Linked DNA regions of Homo sapiens: region 2 is linked to region 1. Evidence: fine-mapped expression QTL. A gene starts in region 1. The other region holds a variant in brackets. All regions are shown on one strand. Distances are from middle to middle. Region 1 holds the start of ZNF573 (zinc finger protein 573). Region 2 has its middle 22 kb from the start of ZNF540.

The links.
Region 2: its variant is fine-mapped to the expression of ZNF573 in whole blood (INTERVAL, PIP 0.99).

What each region holds. Positions count from the first base shown.
Region 1 is chr19:37,778,242-37,781,166 of GRCh38, reverse strand. ZNF573 (zinc finger protein 573) reads left to right here and starts at 1,581. Exons shown (of 5, transcript NM_001172690.2): 1 at 1,581-1,623. RefSeq lists enhancers at 767-1,429, 1,288-1,637, 1,344-1,638, 1,430-2,093.
Region 2 is chr19:37,615,168-37,618,092 of GRCh38, reverse strand. No RefSeq gene overlaps it. Among named protein-coding and RNA genes, the nearest start is that of ZNF540, 22 kb to the right of the region's middle. The variant C/G (reference allele first, on the strand shown) is at 1,509.

The sequences.
Region 1 (2,925 bases):
CGTACATTTCCCAATGTAAATTAATACAGCCATGATGGAAAATAATATGGAGATTCATCAGAAACTAAAAATAGAATTACTATATGTTCCAGCAACCCCACCGGTGGGTGTATAGCTAAAGGAATTGAAATCAGCATGCTGAAGAGATAACTGCACTACCATTCACTGCAGCATTATTCTGCATTGGATACGGAAGCAACCTAGGTGTCCAGCATGTTATAAGTGGATAAAGAAAATGTTACATATTATATATATTATGTATATAACCTTATACACATATATATATGTATATATAAAGGAATACTATTCACTTTTTAAGAAGAGGAAAATCGGCCGGGCACAGTGGCTCGCGCCTGTAAATGCAGCATTTTGTGAGGCCAAGGTGGGTGGATCACCTGAGGTCAGGAGTTCGAGACCAGCCAGATCAACATGGTGAAACCCTGTCACTGCTAAAAATACAAAAATTAGCCGACGTGGTGGCGCATGCCTATAATCCCAGCTACTTGGGAGGCTGAGACACAAGAATCGCTTGAACAGGGGAGGCAGAGGTTGCAGTGAGCTGAGACTGTGCCACTGCACTCCAGCCTGGGTGACAAGAGCGAAACTCCGTTTCAAAAAATAATAATAAGTAAATAGATTTTTAAAAAATAAATAAAAAATAAAAATAAAACAAGGAAAATTCTGTCATCTGTGACAACATGGATAAACCAGGAGGACATTATGCTAAGTGAGAGAAGCCAGTAACAGAAAGATAAATACCAAATACCACATAAGTGGTATTTGTGGAATCTAAAAAAGTCTAACTCTTAAGAGGCAAAGAATGGTGTTTACCAGAGACTGAAAAATGGGGAAAAGGGAGATGTTAATTAAAACAGTACAAAATTTCAGTTAGTCAGGAGAAATAAACTTTGTTAATCGATTGCATAGAATAGCAACTACATAAATAATGTGTTGCATGTTTCAAAATTGCTAAAAGTAGATTTTAAATGTTTTCACCACAAAAAAGTGAGGTGATGGATTTAATTAGCTTGATTTAATCATTTCGCATTGTAAACATAGATCAAAACAGCATATTGTACCCTATCAGTATATAAAACATACAATTATTATTTGTCCATTTTTAAAAAGTTACTTTTCTCATACCTTATAACAAGACTGGACTTCCTCAGGGGACACAGAGCAGAGTCCCCGCCCTCGGGAGCTCATAACCGATCCCCCACGCTCGCCCTCGCGGCCACACTTTGAAAGCCCTCCCCTACCGGCTCTACACTCAAACAGCCCGAGGCTTCGGGCAGCCTCGAGTTCGGATTCCACTTCTCAGCCTTCTGGGGTCACTGAAACCCTCAGAACTCCGAGGACAAGTCGGACACGCCTTCGCCTCAGCCATCTTCGCCAGCGCAATAAGTCTCTGTGTCTTCACACTCCTGGTAGAGGGAAAACTAAAACCTCCGGGAGCCAGCGTCCGGCGGTGCCTGCAATCTAACCGGGATTTGGGGTTCCGAGCCACTTTTCCCACAAGCCACCGCGGTCATGGAGCTTTAGGCTTAAACTACATTTCCCAGAGGGCAACGGGAACACCCAATCTATGGCTTCCCTTCCGTTTTCGCGTGGTTCTTTTGCAAGGTGGGTTGAACTCATTTCAGTATATAACAGGCACAGAGTACTCGCAGGGAGGGCTCTGGGCAATCAAGTTACGTTGGAGCCCAACCTAAACCAGCCGGGGTGGTGGAGGAAGCCCTTTAACCGTGGAAGCCTCTAGTGTGGACGGCCAGTTGTTATCGGAATCTCAGGCCCGTGGGTGCATGAACAGCAGAGGAGGGTATTTGAGTGCGCACGTGAGAGAATGTTGTATATGTCAGATGGGGAATGTTTGAGAGTGTGTGACAGAGAAACTGCGTGTGAGAGGCTGGGATGTGCCTCCTTGACGGTGGGTGCGGTTGTGAGGCTGTGACAGGTGAGTGAGTGGCTGTGCTTGCGTGACGGGGATATGAGGTGCTTGTCCTTTTCATGTACGTTGATTGCGGTGGCACTGCGGTGTCACTTTGAGTCTTGGCTGTAGGTTCCCGGCTGCTGCTTCTCTCCTCCCTCCTCACAGCTGCTTGCGGCTGACACACACAAAAAATGTCTGCAAGAGGGAAGTTGGATACTGAACTCTACATCAAGTTTTCCAGCAAGAAGGCATTGACTTGCTGTGAGATTGGAAACGCCTGGGAGGTTATTTCTTTGTGAGCTCTGAGAGCGAGCTACCTGTCTCAGAACCTCGTCTTTCCCAGAGCTCTGACCCCAGGAACCTGCTGTGAACTCATACCCAGATTCCAGCCTCTCTCCTACCTCCATGTGTTAAAGTGTGTGAACAGGGAAGGCGTGGAGGGTATTGTGTAAGGAGGCATTCCGTGCTTCAAGGAAAGGCCTGATAACTCATGATTTTTTTCTCCCTCCCTGGTCCTGCTATTCCTCAAAAGGACTCTAATGAGGAGGAAAAAAATTCTTTCACATCTAAAACTCAATGTTTAGGCTAGTTGGCTTTTTTCTTTCCTAAGGTTACTGGTTTTAGAGTATGTTTTACTTCATCTGAAATGTGTCTGAATGTCCTAATACCAATCTGCTTTCTTTCCAGTAGATGTTGGGAGCCATTGAGCTGAATCTCATTAACGTTCTCATATTTGGCCGGGTGTGGTGGCTCACGCCTGTAATCGCACCATTTTAGGAGGCCAAGGCGGACGGATCACTTGAGGTCAGGAGTTCGAGACCAGCCTGGCCAACATGACGAAACCCCATCACTACTAAAAATACAAAAATTAGTCTGGCGTGATGGTGCATGCTTGTAATCCCACCATCTTGGCCAGGCTGGTCTCGAACTCCTGACCTCATGATCCACCCGCCTCGGCCTCCCAAAGTGCTGGGATTACAGGCGTGAGCCACCGC
Region 2 (2,925 bases), 160 kb after region 1:
ATACCAGTGCTTCCTCTATTTCAGGTATTCTCCATTGTTCCTAATTCACCAAAAGTTGTTTATATTTTCGGGAGCTGTTTATATGTGTGTGTGTATATGCATGTGTATATAATAGTCCCAATACCATTTATAAAAATTTAGGGCTGGCTGCAGTGGCTCACACTTGTAATCCCAGCACTTTGGGAGGCCAAGGCGGGTAGATCACGAGTTCAGGAGTTCGAGACCAGCCTGGCCAACATGGTGAAACCCCGTCTCTACTAAAAATACAAAAATTAGCCGGGTGTGGTGGCAGGCACCTGTAATCCCAGCTACTCAGGAAGATGAGGCAGGAGAATCGCTTGAAACCAGAAGGCAGAGGTTGCAGTGAGCCAAGATCGCACCACTGCACTCTGGCCTGGGTGAAAGAGCAAAATGCTGTCTCAAAAAAAAAAAAAAAATTAAATGAAAACATTATTAAAATGCCTTTGCCCTGACAGTTGTTTTCAGGAAATTCTTGTGAACATTAAATTCAAATAAGTCTTTGTGTCTGGTTTGTGTATGTGCATGTGTATATATACATACACCATATCCCATCAAATATAAAATGCTTTGATACTGGCACAAGGCTTATCTTACTAAAAATATCAATGAACGTTTTCACAAGACATTGTATTAGTCCATTTTCACACTGCTATAAAGAGCTACTTGAGATTGAGTAATTATAAAGGAAAGAGGTTTAATTGACTCACAGTTCCACATTGCTGGGGAGGCCTCAGGAAACTTATAGTCATAGCACATGGTGAAGGGGAAGCAAGGCATGTCTTACATGGTGGTAGGAGAGAGAGAGGGGGGTGGAGAACTGCCAAACACTTTTAAACCATCAGATCTCATGAGAACATACTATCATGAGAACAGCATGGTGGAACCACCCCCATGATCCAGTCACCTCCCACAGGGTCCCTCCCCCAACATGTGGGAATTATAATTTGAGATGAGATTTGGGTGGGGCTTTTTAGCATTGATGAAATCAGGAGGTATCAGTGATAGTAAGGCTAATATATATATATGTGTATATATATATATATGATAATGAATCTAGATGATAATAGGACTGTAGCAATTCTTTTTCCATAATTTAAGCTGCATATGTATAGAACCAGAATATTCCAGTGCCTGCACATTTCAGATATATTTACTGAAAAATTGTATCATTTTGCTGACATTTTATTTAGCATTTTGATTTTTCTCTTTAATTAGGACTCATTTAAATTTTGGTTTTTAGTAACTATTCTCTCTAGTTTTATCATTTGGATTATGTCAGCCATGTATCATGAGCTGGGAAAATTCTGGTAACAATTATCCTTGAAGTTTTTATTAAACTAAAACAGATTGTGCTAGCAGACTGTGTTGTTCTAGCTTGTTCTATAGCTTAAGCTGAATTTACGTTTTCCATTTACTAGTTCACTCAAGCATGATTATGTTGTGTAAATTTCAATGAAGTACATTTTCTAGAAAAGACTTCATTAGCT[C/G]TGGAATTTTATATACATTGAAATGATACTACTTTCTTATAATTTGACATCCTAAAAGTAATGGTAATACATATACCCAAAGTACTAAAATCACACCCTAAAAATTAACAATTCCATAGAATCTTATAATATCCATTCCATGTTGAAATTTCCATAATTGTTCCAGGAATATATTTCATAGATATTTAACAAGGATTTACTCTCAGGATCATACATTGTAACATTTTGGTGGTTCTGTCACTTTTTTTTTTGAGACGGACTCTCGCTATGTCGCCCAGGCTGGAGTGCAGTGGCGTGATCTCGGCTCACTGCAACCTCCGCCTCCTGGGTTCAAGCAATTCTCCTGCCTCAGCCTCCCGAGTAGCTGGGATGACATCGATATCTCTGGTAATGTCCTTTTTAAATTCGTGACACTTATAACTGTGTCATCGTTTTTTTCTTTTTACTGGATTTGGAAAAATTGAATAAGTCTATAATCTGCTTATTACTTAATTTCTAATTTTAATTGCATTAACTAGTTCCTTCTTTTAGCATCTGCTTTATTTGGTACCTTTTTTTGTTTCTTGAGTTAAATACTTATTTTTTCCCGAGTTTTATCAAGTGCCTACTATGCAAAAGGCGTCACAGTCGTGTTGAGGATACAGAGAACAAAATGTTCTATCCCCAAATCGTGGTTTTCTGTATGCATTAAGGGATGTTAATTTACCACTGAGTAGAGTCTTGGCCACATCCTACAGATTTCAATATGTAGGCATTTCAATATCACTGCTTTCTGTTAAATCAATATTTAACTTTTGATTTCCAGTTTAATCCATGACTTGTATTATACATGTAGATGATTGTAAATTTGTAAGAGGAGGTGCAAATTATCACCAAATTACTTACTAATTGCAAAGAAAATAACATACCTTTACAATGGAGAGATCTGGCAGTCACTACCTTAACCAAATGTAGCATCACTAATAAAAGGACAACCTGCCATTATATGCCTCCTGTGTGTACAGACTGTATTATACCTATGAAGTATTCTTGCTAAAAATGTTTGACCAGAAGCAAATCAAGCTGCTGTTTAAGTTTCAGTTTGGAGACAGAGGAAAAAGAGGAACAACATTATGCAGAAATAAAATACGACAAACCCAGAATCCAGGATATTCTACGACAACTGTGATGGACTCTTCTAAAAGCCAATAAAATGACATAAAGATGAGGGGCTGTTCAGTTTAAAAGTGACAGAGCAGGCCGGGTGCAGTGGCTCACCCCAGTAATCCCAGCACTTTGGGAGGCCAAGGTGGGTGGATCACAAGGTCAAGAGATCGAGACCATCCTGGCCAACATGGTGAAACCCCATCTCTACTAAAAATACAAAAATTAGCCGGGCGTGGTGGCAGGCGCCTGTAATCCCAGCTACTCGGGAGGC